4 linked regions of the Homo sapiens genome follow. The protein of the gene in region 1 interacts with the protein of each later gene in a biochemical or structural test. Each region holds a gene or a part of one and is shown in the gene's direction. Other genes may lie near its edges.

What was found. The genes of interacting proteins can lie anywhere in the genome.
Region 2: the proteins of PINK1 (region 1) and CRLS1 form a complex in vitro, tested with the Homo sapiens proteins (one study listed by BioGRID).
Region 3: the proteins of PINK1 (region 1) and TOMM70 form a complex in vitro, tested with the Homo sapiens proteins (one study listed by BioGRID).
Region 4: the proteins of PINK1 (region 1) and SIAH3 form a complex in vitro, tested with the Homo sapiens proteins (one study listed by BioGRID).

The regions. Positions count from the first base shown.
Region 1 is NC_000001.11:20,631,991-20,636,257, forward strand, and holds the start of PINK1 (serine/threonine-protein kinase PINK1, mitochondrial precursor), read left to right. Parts: upstream 1-1,467; 5' UTR 1,468-1,558; coding exon 1,559-1,945; intron 1,946-4,267. UniProt on the Homo sapiens protein: Serine/threonine-protein kinase which acts as a sensor of mitochondrial damage and protects against mitochondrial dysfunction during cellular stress.
Region 2 is NC_000020.11:6,033,027-6,038,053, forward strand, and holds part of CRLS1 (cardiolipin synthase (CMP-forming)), read left to right. Parts: intron 1-1,437; coding exon 1,438-1,529; intron 1,530-4,047; coding exon 4,048-4,132; 3' UTR 4,133-5,027. UniProt on the Homo sapiens protein: Catalyzes the synthesis of cardiolipin (CL) (diphosphatidylglycerol) by specifically transferring a phosphatidyl group from CDP-diacylglycerol to phosphatidylglycerol (PG).
Region 3 is NC_000003.12:100,369,159-100,374,185, reverse strand, and holds part of TOMM70 (mitochondrial import receptor subunit TOM70), read left to right. Parts: intron 1-540; coding exon 541-648; intron 649-1,463; coding exon 1,464-1,580; intron 1,581-5,027. UniProt on the Homo sapiens protein: Acts as a receptor of the preprotein translocase complex of the outer mitochondrial membrane (TOM complex). Recognizes and mediates the translocation of mitochondrial preproteins from the cytosol into the mitochondria in a chaperone dependent manner.
Region 4 is NC_000013.11:45,840,823-45,845,849, reverse strand, and holds part of SIAH3 (seven in absentia homolog 3), read left to right. Parts: intron 1-5,027. UniProt on the Homo sapiens protein: Negative regulator of PRKN translocation to damaged mitochondria. Acts probably by destabilizing PINK1 protein, hence inhibiting PRKN targeting to dysfunctional depolarized mitochondria.

The DNA.
Region 1 (4,267 bases):
CCCAAATAAATATGATTGGATATCACAAGAACCATAAAATTCCTCCCTTAAGGAAGATTATGAGAGAGACCAGCACACACACACACAGTGCAAGCTAAAGCAACCCCGTCTTGGATGCTAATCCACCAAGTTGATGTGTTTTGTTGGTTTTTTGGTTTTGTTTTGAGACAGAGTCTCACTCTGTCGCCCAGGATAGAGTGCAGTGGTGTGATCTTTGCTCACTACAACTTCCACCTCCTGGGTTCAAGCGATTCTCCTGCCTTAGCCACCTGAGTAGCTGGGATTACAGGCGTGTGCCACCACGCCCAGCTAGTTTTTGTATTTTTAGTAGAGATGGTGTTTTGTTGGCCAGGCTGGTCATGAACTTCCGGACTCAAGTGATCCACCTGCCTCAGTCTCCCAAAATGCTGGGATTACAGGCTGTGAGCTACCACACCCGGCCAACCAAGTTGACTTCTGATTAACCAGCTTTTAGGGAAGGCCTCTAAGATTTCCAGTTTATCTATTGTTCCTTGTGTAAAAGTATGTACTTACCATAAATCCTGCCCTTAGGCAGATTCACACAGCATTCTTGCCTTTCCCTGGGGGACTGACTTCAAATGTCCGTCACATTCCTTTCCTATAGCATATAGGCCCTGGGTCTTGGGGGTAATGGCATGGGGATCCACCATCTTGTCTCCCTGCCGCTGAAGCCAGAGACTATGGCTTCTGTTCATAAATCCCTTTCTCCTTAAATATGAAGTCAAAGGTCATGTAGATAGGAGCTGCTGCTGAAGAAGGGATTTTTTGTCTGAAGAGTTCTGTCCCCTGGGCTTACTTGGCTATGGGGTGGACCCCTGGCCAGGAGACAGCAAACTGTTTCAGTAATGTGCGTGTCGTGCGTGTGTGTGTTCTGTGGTGAGCAGGCCTATGCCATTAAACAAACGGTGTGGCTTTGGGCAAGCTGCTATCTTGGGACCTCAGCACACTCATTCATAAATTGTGTCTTTTGGGTGAGATTTGTCTTGGGGTCTTCAAAACCCCTGAGACTGTGGACACATACAGCAGCCTAACGGCATTGAGGAGGGCAAGCATTCAACAGTTAGGACAATGTGAACTGTAGCTCAGCTCTGCTAGGTACCTTCACAAGACCTCGAATGCTGCCCCTTACTATGCCTCGGTTTTCTTATCTATAAAAACGGCATTTTTATCTTGTTGGTGGAGCTGTTAAATAAATTAAAAGACGTAAAGGGTCTGGCACCATGGTTGGCAAAAAATATCAGTTTCCCTTCTCGACTTCTCGATTTTGCCCAGGACCAGTGATGTTCACATTCAGGACCTGCCTGAACCGGCAAGCCCTCCACGTGGGTCCAAAGTGCAAAGGGAAAGTCACTGCTAGAGGCGCCAGTACCAGCATAGCGCCCCCACGCGCCGAGTCGGGGAACTGCCGCGGGGGCCGGCCCCGCCCACCAGCGCCTGCGCCTGCGCAGAGGCACCGCCCCAAGTTTGTTGTGACCGGCGGGGGACGCCGGTGGTGGCGGCAGCGGCGGCTGCGGGGGCACCGGGCCGCGGCGCCACCATGGCGGTGCGACAGGCGCTGGGCCGCGGCCTGCAGCTGGGTCGAGCGCTGCTGCTGCGCTTCACGGGCAAGCCCGGCCGGGCCTACGGCTTGGGGCGGCCGGGCCCGGCGGCGGGCTGTGTCCGCGGGGAGCGTCCAGGCTGGGCCGCAGGACCGGGCGCGGAGCCTCGCAGGGTCGGGCTCGGGCTCCCTAACCGTCTCCGCTTCTTCCGCCAGTCGGTGGCCGGGCTGGCGGCGCGGTTGCAGCGGCAGTTCGTGGTGCGGGCCTGGGGCTGCGCGGGCCCTTGCGGCCGGGCAGTCTTTCTGGCCTTCGGGCTAGGGCTGGGCCTCATCGAGGAAAAACAGGCGGAGAGCCGGCGGGCGGTCTCGGCCTGTCAGGAGATCCAGGTGAGCGGGGCCGGGTCCTAAGCCGAGCGGAGGACGGAGCTAAGCGCGGGGGCGGGTCCTCAGCTGGGTGGGGGCGGGGCTAGGTGTGGAGGCGGGGCTCTGAGCAGATCGAGGGCCGAGGCGAGGGTCCTTAAAGCTCATCTATTTCACCATTACTGATCGGCTGCTATAAATAAAGCCAGCACCTCCCATTTGTTTTAATGTTTCCCTTCCTCAAATGAAGACATGTTGCCGATTACAGCTCCTGTCGCAGCACAGCAAAAGGCTTTGTGTAAATTTTCTAAAATGTACGGACAACTAAATCATAACATTCCTATCCCTTTGAGGTAGTTGCCGTCCCTAATTTATGGAGAAGGAAAGTCCTCAGGTGAAGGGACTTGCTCGAAGTCACACAGCTAATAAAATGCAGTGCCCTTAACCACTGAGCCAGGCTGCCTCCGCCGTTTAACCAAAGGATTAGTAGTGACAGAGCTGAAACCGCAGTAAAAACTATGAACGGCGAGAAAAACAGTCCTAACATTTTAGTTACCTGTGTAGAGTTATCCCTGCTGACTGGATACACAAGGGTTCTTAGGGTTTTTTAATGCTTAAAATAGCACAAGACTTCTCTTTTTGCCCAACCAAAGTCTGTATTAGGGTTCTCCAAATGGAATCAATAGGATGTGTCTATATAGAGGCAGGTTTATTTTGAGGACCTGGCTCCCTATGGGGATTGGCAAAGTCTTAAAAGCCGCAGAGTAGGCGGGCAGGCTGGAGAGCCAGGGAGGAGCCAGCGGTGCAGTTCAGGTTTGAAGCCTGGCCGCTGGCAGAATTCCATCTTCTTCCAGGGAGGTCACTCTTCTTCCTGGGGGTGTAGAACCACTCACTAAATTAGCATAGCCCCTGCATTTTACAGGTTAGGGCTGAGGTGGTGGAAGAGGGAGTGACTTGCCCAAGGACACAGCTGTTAGGGCCAAGCAGTGGCTCCTGGGTTTCCTGGTTTCCATCCCAGTTCTTATTGCTCATCACCACTGTCTCATGTTTGAGCTCTGGCCAGTTTGGGGTGACAGGTGACATCTGGCCTAGTCCCCAGCCCCTGACCTTGTCTTTTGCCACAGCTTAACTGGCAGAAGCTAAGGATGGGAAATTTGACTAATCCTGCTTAAAACTAAAGAGGCTTTTTTAACTGAGGAGATTGATCCTCCTAAACTTACCATTCACACACACCTTCTTCGCACACTTCACCCTCCTATGCCTGAAAATGTTATTAGTTATCAATTAATTTCACATTAAAAAAATTTTTTTTGGTCAGGCACTGTGGCTCATGCCTGTAATCCCAGCACTTTGGGAGGCTGAGGCGGGCGGATCACGAGGTCAGGAGTTTGAGACCAGCCTGGCCAACATGGTGGAACCCTGTCTCTACTAAAAATACAAAAATTACCCGGGCGCAGTGGTGGGCGCCTGTAATCCCAGCTACTTGGGAGACTGAGGCAGGAGAATTCCTTGAACCCGGGAGGCGGAGGTTGCAGTGAGCTGAGATCACGCCACTGCACTCCAGCCTGGGTGACAGAGCAAGACTCTGACTGGGGGGAGAAAAAGTTGTTTTCACTGGCTACTTTTGCTGGAATTAATTTCACATTTAAAAAATTCTGGGCCGGGCGGGGTGGCTCATGCCTGTAATCTCAGCACTTTGGGAGGCCAAGGCGGGCGGATCATGAGGTCAGGAGATCGAGACCATCCTGGCTAACATGGTGAAACCCCGCCTCTACTAAAAATACAAAAAAATTAGCCAGGCATGGTGGCAGGCGCCTGTAGTCCCAGCTACTCGGGAGGCTGAGGCAGGAGAATGGCGTGAACCCGGGAGGCAGGGCTTGCAGTGAGCCAAGATCGCGCCACTGCACTCCAGCCTAGAGGACAGAGTGAGACTCCGTCTCAAAAAAAATAAAAAATAAAAAAATAAAAAATTCTGAAGCCAGGCATGGTGACTCATGCCTATAATCCTGGTGCTTTGGGAGGCCAAGGTGAGAGAATCTCTTGAGCCCAGGAGTTGAAGACCAGCTGGGACAACATAGTGAGACCTTGTTCCCACAAAATATTAAAAAGTTAGCTAGGCATGGTGGCACATGCCGATAGTCCCAGCTACTTAGGAGGCTGAGGTGGGTGGATTGCTTGAGCCCAGGAGTTTGAGGCTGCAGTGAGCTGTAGTTGCAACACTGCACCCCATCCTGGGCAACTAGCAGGAGTGTGCTAGTAGCAAGCTCTAAAAATTTATATTATAAAAATATATATATAATGTGTATATATATGTATATGTGTATATATGTTGTGTATACTATAATATGT
Region 2 (5,027 bases), on another chromosome or scaffold:
AAGTGCCTTAAACCCTTATAGGAAGCCCTTAGGATAAAATTTACATTTTATTTTATTTTATATTTTATATTTTATTTTATTTTAATTTAATTTAATTTTATTTTATTTTATTATTTTTTATAGATGAATTTTTGCTCTTGTTGCCCAGGCTGGAGTGCAATGACGCGATCTTGGCTCACTGCAACCTCCTCCTCCCGGGTTCAAGCGATTCTCCTGCCTCAGTCTCCCAAGTAGCTGAGATTACAGGCATGCGCCACCACGCCCAGCTAATTTTTTTTTTGTATTTTTTAGTAGAGACGGGGTTTCACCATGTTGGTCAGACTGGTCTCAAACTCCTGACCTCAGGTGATCCACCCATCTCGGCCTCCCAAAGTGCTGGGCTTACAGGCGTGAGCCACTGCGCCTGGCTATTATTTATTTTTTAAATGAAGTAGAATCCTTCTCATTTGGCTGCAGAACGGGTGATAGAACAGAGGTGCTCGTCTGCTTCACTCGCTTTTTCATACTTTGCAGACTCTTCCATGGAGTGCTTCTCATGATGATAGAGGGAGTCTCCAGTGTATTTCTTGTTCTATTTTCTTTTCTCCCCAGTGCTGTCTTTTAGTGTAGGGAAGCCTACTCATTTCCTCCTTGAGAGAGGTTCTTTTATGGAGATGAGTGCTTTTTCTTTGAAACGGGGTCTTGCGCTGTCTGCCCAGCCTTGAGTGCAGTGGCGCAATCATAGCTCACTGCAGCCTTGACTTCCCAGGCTCAAAATATCCTACCACCTCAGCCCCCCAAGTAGCTGAGAGTACAGGTGCACACCACCATGCTTGGCTGGTTTTTAACTAGCTGGTTTCAAACTCCTGGGCTCAAGTAGTCCTTCTGCCTCAGCCTCCCAAAGTGTTGGGATTGCAGGCATGAACCACTGCATCTGTCCTGAGATGAGTGCCTTTTAATTTTCTAACCTCACAAGGTTTGACAGGTAGGCAAGAAAGGAGCATCGGATAAGGCCCCAGGAAATCTAGGTTCCAGCTTTGGTTCTGTTGTCTGCTGTGACTGCAGGCAAGTCACCTAACTCATTACCCTTTTACCCATGAAGAGGTAGCTTAGTTATTTTCGTATTCCATTTTAATGGGCAGTTGGAAAAAAGGCAAATAATTTTGTAACATTTTTGAGTTGCTGTGAGAATTCAAGGTAGTGGTATTTTCTGACAGTTGTCATTACTCTTGCTCTTAAGGGCAGCTGTGCAGACAGATGGGTCAGTTAGTGAAGCTGACCCTTTTGTGTGTGCTCACCTGTGAATGCAAGCTTATTGGGCAGGGATAGTGTAGATGAACAGCAAGCATGCTGAGGGTATGTCATGTTATAGTGTGATGGGCTGTGCTTTTGTCTTGAAAGCTTGAAATAGGATCCAGTTGGCACTATTCACTTAGAACTTTTTCTTTTTTTATTTAGGTGAATACAGCAGTCCAGTTAATCTTGGTGGCAGCTTCTTTGGCAGCTCCAGTTTTCAACTATGCTGACAGCATTTATCTTCAGATACTATGGTAAGCTAAATTTAGAATCACTCTCTTAGAATGTCAACAGAATGACTTATGGTGATAGCCCTAGAATGACCTTGTTCTTACAGCATTTGTTGAGCACTGACTGGGTAAAGCTGTGGCTATATTTGGTGATTGATACCATTGTTAAGACGCTTCCTGCCAAGTATGAGATGGAGAAGTTAGCTTTCATACAAATTAAAAGGGATAAAAGGTACTGATAATGTGTTAAGGGTTTTGGAGGAAGAGATAACTTCGTAGGAAGAAGAGGGACAGTTTCAGGAAGGAAGTGGCATTTGTTGCATGAAGTGGATTGTGTGTAGGAAGAGACTGAGAGGAGACCACTAGGTGAAAGACAGGGCCTAAGCCAAGAGATAGAGTGTAGGAGAGAGGGTAGGGAAGCTGAGTCCAGCCTGTTGAAAAGGGTGTTGTAGGAGGGAAAACTGGAGAGAGGAGTTTGAATTTTATTATACTAATTGCTTATTTATCATCTTAAAAGTGTGTCAAATTCACGCTTTCAGAGTTCAAAATAGTCACATTGACATTGGAGTATTATATTTTGGCACAATTTTAACTAGAATTAAAATTATCTTGCTTGGTACAGTCTGGACCAGAAAGTGGTGGCTAATCACAGTCAGTTAAGCCAGGCAGTCTTTTAAAAAATGACAACTACTCTAAACTTTTTATTTTAATTAAAAATATTTAAGTGTACATTTATCCCAGTTCATCTTATACCTTCTGATATAGGATGAAGGCTTTTTGAGTGTAGGTCCATCAGTGGGAGTTTTTTCTTTCTCGGATAAACTACATCCATAATACAAACCTCTCTGATTTTCATTTTTTACTTCTTTAAGGTGATGCAAGAACTTAAAACATTTGCAAAGCAGTCTAAGAACTGTTTAGATATTTTCCCTAGTCTTTTCACAATCATCTTGTCTATTTATTTTGACAGTATTTTTTTCCCCTAGGAACCCATGAAGAGAGAGACAGTATTTTTTTTTTAATCAAGTCACCTTTATTGAGTCTTTCTAAAGCATCCAATGTAGTTTTCAGAAATAGCAATTAAAAAAATTTTTATTTTATTTTTTTGGAGACAGGGTCTTGCTCTGTCACCCAGCCTGTAGTACAGTGGCATGATCATAGCTCACTGTAACCTTGAATTCCTGGCCTCAAGCGATCCTTCAGCTTCAGCCTCCTGAGTAGCTGGGATTACAGGCATGTGCCACCACCACACCTGGCTATTTTTTTTTAATTAATTAATTTATTTATTTTTGAGACAGAGTCTCGCTCTGTTGCCCAGGCTGGAGTGCAATGGCCTGATCTCAGCTCACTGCAACCTCTACCACCCGGGTTCAAGCGATTCTCCTGCCTCAGCCTCCTGAGTAGCTGGGATTACAGGCGCCCACCACCATACCTGGCCAATTTTTGTATTTTTAGTAAAGGCGGGATTTCACCTTGTTGGTCAGGCTGGTCTCGAACTCCTGGCCTCAGTTGATCCACCCGCCTCAGCCTCTCAAAGTGCTGGGATTACAGGTGTGAGCCACTGTGCCCAGCCACTAATTTTTTGTATTATTATTTTTTGTAGAAACAGGGTCTCACTATGTTGCCCAGGCTGGTCTCAAACTCTTGGCCTCAAACAATCCTCCTGCCTCGGCCTGCCAAAGTGGTAGGATTATAGTCATGAGCCACTGCGTCCAGCTAGAAATAGCAATTTTTCTAACACATATATTTCATTGGTTTATGTATGAATTTAGAATATCAAAGTGGCATGAACAGGTTCAAGATCCAACAAAAGGGAATCTTGATTCTGCCTCACCTAATAAAAGCAGAAGTGCGTGGGCGCACTAAAAAGTAATCTAGCTGTGGGCATGCAGCATGCCATGGGTGTCAGGTGATGTCATTTCAAGGAGAATCCGGTTAAGGGTAGTTTGGTAAAGAAAGCTGAAATTTATTTAAAATGACTCAGGTATCTTTAGAATTCTCAAAAGCTGCAGGAAATAAGAGTCTGGTACCCTGAGAAGCATGGGGCAGTAGAAAGAGCATGTGGGCTTTAGAGTTCAAACGAAGTCAGGCTCAAACATAGTTCTGTGATAAGCCCTGAGCAAGTTACCCGGGTCTTCCATTTCCCCCTTCTGGAGAAGTCCTTTGGAGGATGAGTCCTTCTGGAGGATGAGTCCTTCTGGAGGATGAAGTCCTTCTGGAGGATGAGTTCGTTGTAAGAATAAAATGAGAATGTAAGACACCTAGAGGATGCCCGAGTAAAAAATGACAGTTGCTAGTAGTAGTAATTTGTAGGGCTCATTATCTAGAATAATTTTGTTTGACGTTACTAATTAAAATGAACTCTTAAAGAAAAGCAGTGTATTTAGACTCTTGTAGTTAAGAAAAATTACACCACAGAGCCCTTTTTACTTTTTAAATTCATTTTTACATTTTAAATTCATTGCATGTATTCATTATGATTCCCGTTGCTACTATTTTTTAGACTTGACAACTACATTTTATTTCTTTTCTTCCATAAAAGGTGTTTTACAGCTTTCACCACAGCTGCATCAGCTTATAGTTACTATCATTATGGCCGGAAGACTGTTCAGGTGATAAAAGACTGATGAAAGTCATCCCTCACTGTTAGTAAGGAAGCAGTATACATCAATGGGAACAGGGCCCATGGAAATGTACAGGAGTTTCCCTATTTTGGTGTTCAGCTTGAAAAAGGACTTGTCAGAATCAACTGTGTCATCAAAATTTAAGTAATGTGCATTGAAAATAAGGTTGATCATGGGAATATGCAGAATTTCCAATGTATTTTTAAATACAAATAAAATTGTAATTTAGAATTTTTAATCTTAGGTTTCTTGATTAATTTATAAGAGATCAATTATTGTCAGTCTTTTTTGTATGTTTTTTAAAAACATAGTCCAGAGCATGGGCAGAATTGACACCTCTCTTTTAAGTGAAATTTGGATTGCTCACAAAGCACTAGGAAATGTCATGGGGTTCAAATATATATCCTACACAACTGGGCAATACATTTTTGTTTGATTTTTAGGTCTGTGTATACATTAACAGTTCATGTAATTAATACCTGATCATTTGGGATAATGAAAGTGAAGTTAGTTGTAGATGAAGTAAAGTTATAAAAGAGATTAAAAATGCGGTAACTTTTTAAGATAATAATCATACAGAAGGTATGAAGTTCATTTTCGGTAGTCTTCCAACCTCTCAGGTGCCTAATAATTTATGTTTGAGGATAACAGGTAACAAAGATAGTCGAGATAGGAGAACGTGTCTATTAGTCTTTGCATCTAAAAGGCAGTGAGTTACGTTCCTGCCTTCCACTGTGTTTCTGACATAGCAATGTTTGTTTGATATTGGAACCTGGATTCATATTTTATGTAAATAATATCAAGCTGTATATTTTTCAAAGGTTTTTTAAACTTTGGAGACTCTTTCTTTTGTTAAGCAGTTAAAGGAATAAAAGAGCTGGAAAAAAAATTGTACCTT
Region 3 (5,027 bases), on another chromosome or scaffold:
GTCTAAAACATATCTAAACATAGAAAAGGTACAGTAAAAATGCAGTATTACAATCTTTTGGGACCACTGTTGTATATGTGGTCTGTTGATTGAAATGTAAATATGCATGACTGTATTTCTTTCAGAAGGGTGTTAAGTGTTGAGATAACCTCTTAAAATTCTTGACATTTTGATCTTTACTGGTAGTGTCTGAAGATTAATTTGAAAGGTAATTATCTGATGTCTAACCTGCTTTGATATTAGAATGTACAGGATGTTTAGTTTTCTAGAAGAAGGGGTTTCTTGCTTAATAGTGATCAGAATTGCAGGGCAGAAATGGTTGGCTTGTAGTCCTTTCTATAAGTTGGATACCATTTTTATGTTTTGGAATCTTGCCTTTTAAATTTCAAGATTTTTAAATCACTGTTTCTAGAAAGTAATTATATATTGAATTACTACTACATGCTCAGCATTATGCTGAGGTGTAATAATAGAGATGAGACACTGAACATACTTAACTGGACTAGTTGAATTACATTTATTTACGTATTTTTTTCTTAGCTGAAAATACTCCTTGATCAAGTTGAAGAAGCAGTGGCAGATTTTGATGAATGTATTAGGTTAAGACCTGAGTCTGCTCTGGCACAAGCACAGAAATGTTTTGCATTGGTAGGTACTACTTTCTTTTGTATTTTCCTAAACATCACTTTTATTTTCCAGCGTCAACAAAAATGAGTATCTCATTGTCTACAAAGTCGTCTTTTTCTTTCTTTCCCAAAGGATAACTACTGAGGAAAAAAGGTGCTGATTGATACCTAGCTCTTGTATTTCTCTGGACATTTGTTTGGGTTCATCTTGATAGATGTTTGTCCCTGATTTTATACTTCCCTAAACAGAACTGGTCTCCCTGCTTCATCATAAATCAATATAAAGAGCAAAAACATTTTGAGGAAACACTCTGTAAACATGACACCATGTAACTTGCTCTCTCACCCCTGCTTCATAGAACTGTTTCTTAATATTCAGAAACACAAAGCTCAAAAGGTTGTTTTTTTTTTTTTTTTAAGTAAAAATTTTTCTAGTAAAATAAGATACTTCCAGTTAGCTGTATGGCTGGAGTCGTAAAAGAATTTTCAGTTTAAAGGAAGAAATTATGTCACAAATATATATTATAAATGAAAATGACAAAAATTTTACTAGATTTAAAATTCATTTATTGCAAAGTTCACTTCTTACAAATTAGTATGCCCTCTTCTACAGTATTGAACATCTTGAAATTGTATAGTGGCCATGGAGTCCTAGTTGTACATAACCTTTGGCTCTCTGCTGCTGAGATACCTACTTGGAACCCTTTTGGATGCTGCAGATTATGTTAGCAAATCACCTGTTTTTTTGGAAATATTTATGTAATTTTGTGTGTTTATGTTAACATTCCATGAGTTTTTGAGTTCTTGATTTGACAGGCCTGTTTTGATTTTTTATAGTACCGCCAGGCATATACGGGAAACAACTCTTCACAAATCCAAGCAGCTATGAAAGGTTTTGAAGAGGTCATAAAGAAATTTCCAAGGTGTGCCGAAGGCTATGCACTATACGCCCAGGTAAATGTTTTTTCAGGTTTTTTAAAAATAACTGCATACATATGCCAAATCTCAGTATGGAAATCAGAAAACAGTGCTATCATGGTTGCAGCTTCTTTGGAAGCAGGTGGCTTTGTTCCTGATTGATTCTCATGGCCCCTGGTTGGTCCCGAATCACCTCAGAAGAGGCTCCTTTGTTACACAATTTGGAAATCATGGCCCTAAACTCAATATGGGGAAGCTTAAGGCGAGAATTTCCCTCCTGTCTTCATTTGGATTGGTTTTGCAAAAAGTAATTACCTTAGGAAAATTTACCGTATGCAATTGGTGGAGAAAATATCCACGGAAAGGCTTTTCTTTCTATCTGGTCACTGCCTTTTTATATGGCTAGGTTGTTGTAACGGTTTATTTTAATTTATCTTTGCTTTATCTAAAATTCCTGAAACTCTCTTGGTTTAGGATTGAAGCTATGGAAAGCAGGATTTAAATCTGAATTTTTTTATTGTAGTCTGAAATTCTTGAAAACTTCTTAGTTTTAAATCATCCATTTAAATGAAAATGATTAGCTTCTTGTAGTGACGGTCATACATTTTCCCCTCAAATAAAAGATCTCTGAATGACTCAGTTTTCTTTCTTAAAGCTGAAAATTGGTTTTGGTGTCTACATAAACTAGCCATCTCAATACTCTATATCAGGGGTACAGCTGCTTTGTGGCCTCTTAGGAATGGGGCTGCACAGCAGGTGAGCCTTGGGCAAGCATCACCACCTGAGCTCCACCTCCTGTCACTGTCAAATCTGCAGCAGCATTAGATTCTCATGCCTGATGATCTGAGGTGGAACAGTTTCATCCCAAAACCATCCCTCCTCCTCCTACCCCCATCCATGCAAAAATTGTCTTCCACAAAACCAATCCGTGGTGCCAAAAGTGCTGGGAAGGTGTTGGGGACTGCTGCTCTATGTAATTTATTTTTCTTTTTTTTTCTCTTTTTAATTACAAAAGACATGTTGGGTTTTTCCCCACAGCACAGAAATAGGAAACGATAACAAATTACTATCCCCTGGCTGGGTGTGGTGGCTCCTGCCTGCAATCCCAGCACTTTGGGAGGCTGAGGCAGGCGGATCACTTGAGCCAGGAGTTTTGAGACTAGCCTGGCCAGCATGGAGAAACCCCATCTCTACTAAAAATACAAAAATTAGCTGGGTGTGGTTTGGCGCACACCTGTTATCCCAGCAACTCGGGAGGCTGAGGTAGGAGAATCGCTTGAACCCAGGAGGCGGAGGTTGCAGTGAGCTGAGATCACACTACCACACTCCAGCCTGGGCAAGAGTGAGACTCCATTTCCAAAAAAAAAAAAAAAAAAAAAAAATACCATCGCTGGTTGACCCCTCTCCTTAAACCATTCTTAAGGATGCTTATTTTGTTTTTAATTTCCTTCATGGTATCTGTAGGCAGGTTATAAGAACAATTTCACAAGGATTTTAAGGGTTTATTGAGGGTGGAACTATGAGAAAATTGATTTGTGTTGGATCTGTTCTTTAGAGGTAGGTCTTATATATAACTACATTAAAGTGTACATTTTAATCCTATGAATGGGTACACTTGAGTTTATGCCTTATAATTAGTAACAAACCAGGAAATGACAGCAACATCCTCATCATTGTCATGGAATTCAGAAGGGCTTTTTTGGTGCAGATTTCTCTAAGCATCTAGAAGAGCAAAGGCCACCGAATAGGAACCACTACTGGGGAACAACTCCTCTGCAGAACTTTCCCAATAGCATATTTCCCTATTACCATTCTGCCTTCAAGATAGGTTTGGTTTGTATGAGCTGTCTTCTCATCAGCATTAGCATTATTACAGTCAGTTTGCACTCAAATTTCTTTTCTTTGGTCTGTTTTCTAATTTTAGCTTCACTATATAGTATATGTAACTTTATATATGCATACAGTACGTGTGTGTGTATGTGTATGTGTATATATATATACTTAGTGTAACTTTTTTGGCCCTCAAAGCTTTGGCGTAGATGCTGGCCAACTCGCAAAGTTACAGCTTGAGCATAGTCTGATATCCACAGAACTGTGCCTTCCATTTCAGCCGTGGGATTTGTCTTAAAAAGTTGATTATAGCTGCTGCTTTTGTTTTCAAAATAAGTATTTATTACATTATTGTTAACTATGACAAACAATTGGGGAAAATCCTAAATGTTAACAGAAAATTGAATTATGTTTGCAGAATTGTGGTACACTCACTTAATGGTATATTATGCAGCCATTAAAAGTTACAAATACATTAAAGTTACAAAGCAAGATACAGCACTGCCTATTATTAAAGGGAGAATTGCATACAAAATGAACTCAACCATGTGAAAGAAAACAAATAGGGAAGTAAATAGAGATAGAAAAATATATCAGGAAGGCATCCATGCTCACAATGATGGAAGCTATAAAAATATTTCTACTTTCTATATCTTTCTGATTTTTATTATAAAGAAGATGTGCTGGCTACATTTCTTTGATATTTTTAAGAGCGATTTTTAAAATATTTAAGTTGGCTTATTTTAGATATGAAAAGACTAAGAGCCATACAGCTAAATATAATGACTCACATACTTCTTAAAAGTCATCTTATAAATAACCGGGGTTAACTGAATATGGGCTAGGTATTATAGATAATATTAGGGAATTATTTTTGGAGATATATTAGTTGAAGCAGTTATAGCTGCTTTTTAAAAAATCAATAATTTTAAACAAATAGCTCTGAAGACATTTAACACATACATCTTAACTTATACTTCCAAATGAATATTGCCCTTAAGATAATTCCCTGGCCAGGTGCGGTGGCTCACTCCTGTAATCCTAGAACTTTGGGAGGCCGAGGTGGGTGGATCACCTGAGGTCAGGAGTTCGAGACCAACCTGGCCAACATGGTGAAACCCCATCTCTACTAAAAATACAAAAATTAGCCAGGCAAGGTGTTGGGCGCCTGTAGTCCCAGCTACTCAGGAGGCTGAGGCAGGGGGATCACTTGAACCCAAGAGGCGGAGGTTGCAGAAAACAGAGATTGCGCCACTACACCCCAGCCTGGGTGACAAGAATGAAACTCTATCTCAAAAAAAAAAAAAAAAAAATTCCCTTGGGCTGTATTATGATAAATTATGAATAAGTGATGTGACTGTACCTATGAGAATGTGATATTAGAGCTGTGACTAAGAATGGGATTATCTGTATTGAACAGTTTACCAGAGATTATCTGCTGTGGCATATAACTAACCACTTGCTGAAGAAAGAGGATAGTTAAGATTTCATATTTATAGCAGTGCCACCTAAAAACTCCGATAATTAAGATGTAAAATGTAAATCAGTCTGTATCCCCAAAACGTGATAATTTTGTAATAATGAATGAAGTAAATTTTTATAATGAATAATAAGTATACTTTTAACTGCTTAGGTTGACGGTTACCTTAATAT
Region 4 (5,027 bases), on another chromosome or scaffold:
CTTCTAAGTCATCATCCTTCCTCACTCCCTCACCCCTTCTATGAGTTTGGGCCATAATTTTGAAAGGCACAATCCTGAATGTTGAAATTGGGAAAGATGAAAGTCCCAAAAATATAATTATGGAAAAAAAATTTAAAAATTTTAAGACCTTTATTTACATTTTTAAGAGAAACATACAAAACACAACAGAGTGTTTTACAGGCCACTTAACACAATAAAAGAGGCAATAGTAACATACATATTTTTGCAAGCATAAACACTCAGATATACTAACAACTGTAGCATGGGGATAAGTTATAAGCAGACAAACTATATTCACAAAGAAATAGATCAAAAGGGAAATGTATAAACGCGTATTACTATGATTACTAATTGTGTGCACCCAGCTTTATAACTGTGGCCATCTGAAACACCGTGATGGACAACTTAAATCTTTTGATGGACAGCTCAAAAACCAGCGAGTCACCATTGCATATGCAGTCACCCAAACCGCCGAGATCTCAAGAAATTGTACCTTTCACAAATGCAGATGTACAGAAAGGACATCTCTTTATTTACTGAGGAAGTTTCAGCGTTTTTAACACACGCACAATGCATACACACAAAGTCAACATTGTGATAATGCACCTTCCTGGAGTCAAATTTGCAAAAAAAAAAAAAAATGCATAAAACAAATGAGAACTCTCTGAAAGTCTCTACACAATGTATACATCTATTATTGGAGACAATACGAAGATTAAATATATAGCATAGTATATTGGCACTATGTGTGAAAGGGCAGAAGTAGTACATGATTAAATAATTTGGCAGGGGAGATTTTTTGTATCTTTCACCTGCATTTTCACTTCTTCTATAATCTTCGAAACAGTCGTTGCACTTGTATTTGGAGAGTGGTTGTGGTCTACAAATTTTCTAAGTGTATGCTGTCCATTTGAAAGTTTGGTTGTTGCTGGGCCATTGCAATTAAGTAATTTTCTGCTAACACAGCACCAGTATAATTAGCTTTTAAACTTTTATCTTTCACCAATAAGTAGTTTCATACACTTAACTTATCACAGCATTTTTGTGAGGGATCAGTTTCACAGATCTCTTCCAATGTGTTGTAAGGAATGCATAAGAATGAATGATATTCGGCTTCCTCAGTACCAAATATGTATTAGTCAGGGTTCTCCAGAGAGCTAGAACCAATAAGATATGTATGTATATGGATATATGAGAGGGGATTTATTAGGAAAATTGGCTCACACGATTATGACGGCTTAGTAGTCCCATGGCATGCCCATCTGCAAGCTAGAGACCCTGGGATGCCAGTAGCATGTCTCGCTCCAAGTCCGAAGGCCTTAGAACCAGGGAAGCCAATGGTTAACTCTCATTTAAATGTGGGTGCTGGTGTAAGTCCTGGAGTCCAAAGGCTGGTGAGCTTGGGGTTCTGATGTCCAAGGCAGCAGAAGAGATCTGTCCCGGATCTCAGAGAGAGATCAATTTGCTTTCTGTATTTGTTTCTCCCAGCCATTGGCCAATGAGATGGTGCCCACCAACACTGAGGGCAGCTTTTCCTCAGCTAACCCACTCATACTCACACACTAACCTCCTCTGGAAACATCCTCACAGAAACATCCGACATAATGCTTTACCAGATTTCCAGGTATTTTTAAATTCAGTCAACTTGACACCTAAATTTTAGTTCACAATCCACAACTTAGCACCCATACGCATCTCTTTAAATCATACTTCATTTCCACATAAGACAATAACAAGGTAATAGTTCTGCCTAACATGATACAACTAACATGGTGCAGATATCCTGCGCACAACCTAAATGTACTAATCCTTTCTCCAGATTTTGACTTTCAGAATTTTAACATTTGGGATTTTAATCTTTTGGGAATGAGATTTTCAGGGTTTTAGACTTTAGGAATTTTGATCTTTGGGGAATTCAACTTTCAGGATTATGATGTTTGGGACTGCATCTTTTGGGATTATGACCGGCACCAATTGTTAGCATGGTCATTATGACGACAACAGCTACTCAAAGCTGGCTTTGACTCCCCACACTCCCCACCTGGCTGTCTTTCTCCGCCTTCCCTTCCTCTCTGCAAGCTTTAGTGCTTGCTGTTTCTTGGTATTTTGTGAGTTATCTTTGGCCTTGAAGAGAATTGTGAATAGAACAATTTTTTGCCTCATGTGAAAGTCGGATTTGTCCTTAATGTTTAGCTTCAAAGAAAGCACGGAACCCCACTGGGCTCTGAGCCTGGAAGACAGGCTGGGTCTCAGGAAGACACTCATGCCTGCAGTGGGACAAGAGCTGAACGAGCTGGGACCTGTCATTCACAGAGCCAGGAGCCATGCAGATAAATCCCCTTCTCTGCTCATCCTGAAAACTTGCCCCTCATGACTTATGCATTACTTCTTTTCATTAGCAGAGGCTTGAGTAAGCACGTGGGTAGGTGGCTCTGTGAGGGGTATCTGATTCGAAGAGTATATATCTGCAGGCTCGATGACACCACTCTGAGATTCAGCAGGGTAGAGACAGAGATGGAGGCAGAAACTGCATGTCCCTGTGAGGTTGTACATTTTCTCTCTGCCCTGCAGTTCGTTGCACCTTGAGGACACAGCTTTCCTCTGAGCCCGGCATGGATGAGAAGGGGGATGATGCTCAGTCTAGGCTGCAGCCTCTGGAATCGAGGAAGGGCAAGACAGAACTCCTAGATCCCACTGTCATCAGAAAATTAAACATGAATGAGCTAAGCCCTAGGCCTGAGTTGCCTACACTCCAACCTGAGTTTCTACACACACACACACACACACACACACAGAGAGAGAGAGAGAGAAATAATGGCAATTCTGAGATGCTCCCCTGTGTGGGCCCTGAGTGGACTCTGAATAGAAGATCACAGGATGCGAAGCCCAGTGGGTGCGGAATACTGGTCCCCAGCACAGTGGAAGAACAAATAGAGATAAACAAGACCCTTCTTCCCCACCCAGTCTGTAACCAACCAGCTTCAGGAAAGAGTTAAGTGGGGAAAGTGGTGTTGGGAAAGAAGAGAAATGTTTTAGTTGAGGACTTAAGGTATGAGTTTTGGAGTCAGATCTGGGTTTGAATCCAATGTTGCATTCCTTGGATAATATCTTTGGCCTCCCAGAGTCTGCATGCTCTCCTCTATAAAATGGTTGTTGTAAAGATTAAATAATACGATGTACAGGCCAGGCACGGTGGTTCACGCCTATAATCCCAGCAGTTTGGGAGGCTGAGGCAGAAGGATTCTTGAGCCCAGGGGTTCGAGACCAGCCTGGGCAACATAGTGAGACCTCGTGTCTCCAAAAATATAAATATTAGCAAAGCATGGTGGCCCACACCTGTAGTGTCAGCTATTCAGGGTGGAGGGGCTGAGGTGGGATGATCGCTTGAGCCCAGGAGGTCCAGGCTGTGGTGAGCCATGACTGCACCACTGCACTCCAGCCTGGGTAGCAGAGCAAGACCCTGTCTCAAAAAATATACATATGATTTATATAAAGTGTTCAGCACAGCACCTGGCATATTATAATTACTCCATCAATTGTAGTTATCATCATTACTAGTAGGTGAGTCCTGCAGAGATGTTACCTGATGCACAAAATGTGACCCAAGTTCCTTTGCCTAAGTTTGGGTGACCAAACTTTTACTCCAACTGTATGTTGGAGGGAAGGGGGAAGGTAGAGCAGTAAAAGGACATACCTGCTGAGGACCATGCTTTTGAAGCACACAGTGTTTAAGCTGAGAGCCAGAATAATGTCCTAGTTTAAGGAGCCGGTCTAACAAATGTGGCTCAAGGGGATGAAGTGACTTGCCCAAGGTTCCCACTGATGAGGCTCCAGCAGAGCTGGGGATGGTACTTTGGTTAAGGACATTGCCTCTCTAATATGTCCCCATGGCAGTGTTGGACCTCTTCCCAGAGGGGTCTTGTTCTCAGGACCTTGCCAAGGTATAAACCAGCTGGACAACAGCGGGGCATTAAAAAGGCAAATGTTCCTTGTGTCTCTAGCGCTGGCACAAATATATAGTGAGGGACAGGGATGAGGCTCCAAATGAAGTCACCAAACCCTTGCAGCCATTATCCCAGACCTTCAAACAGCAGGATGGATCCAAAGGCTACATATTCATCTTGACTATGGCACCATCAGAAAACAGATGAGAAACAAACACAATGTTTTTACCAGAAGAACAGGTTCTTTGTGGATTATTTAGAATTGTGGTCTAACTGGAAGTGTCAGTTTTACTTGCAAGTTGCTATATCTTGTAATCATTTCTTGGTCCTTTAATGTATTTTTAATCAAGAATCTATGATAAGGAGGGCACTGCTCATTGCAGGGCTGTTTCCAGCTGTGGCACAGCACTGGAAACAGCATGGAGCAAGTAGCCTGAGAAAGGAAACGGTAGGCCCTGGCTCCCCAGGACAAAAAGGACAGGATCCTCTGCAGAAGAGATGGGCCACTGCAGCCCCTTGGAGAGGGAGGGCAGGGTTAGCTTGGCATTAGGAAGGCCCCATAGAGATGAAACCAAATGTAGATCAATAACACAGATTTTACAAGAGACTGGCCAGCAAGCCTAGCCACCTGCCAGCTTCATAACCAGACTTCATGGCCTCTCGGATCTAACAGCTACGACTCTGCCAAGATGTGACAGGGAGTCCAGGGCAGGTGGCCACTTGGAACCCTGGGTTCCCTCTGTGTACTTTAGGGATGTATAATGACTTATACTAGGCCAAGGCAGCTAAACATCCTGAAACCCTGATAATAGTTTTCTACCGTATTAGTTACACACACAATAAAAACAATAATGATAGTAACAACCACAAAATGCTACATCCAGGAACTATGTTAAGTGCTAATGCATTTAATCATCACTGGGAAGTAGTATATTGTTATCATTCTCCATTATACAGAATATCAAAACAGAAAAAGGTCAAAAATCTTACTCAATGTCACCCAGCTCTTTGTGGCAGAACCTTTTTTAAAAATTAAATTTCTGTGCTTTAAAGCGCGTCTTG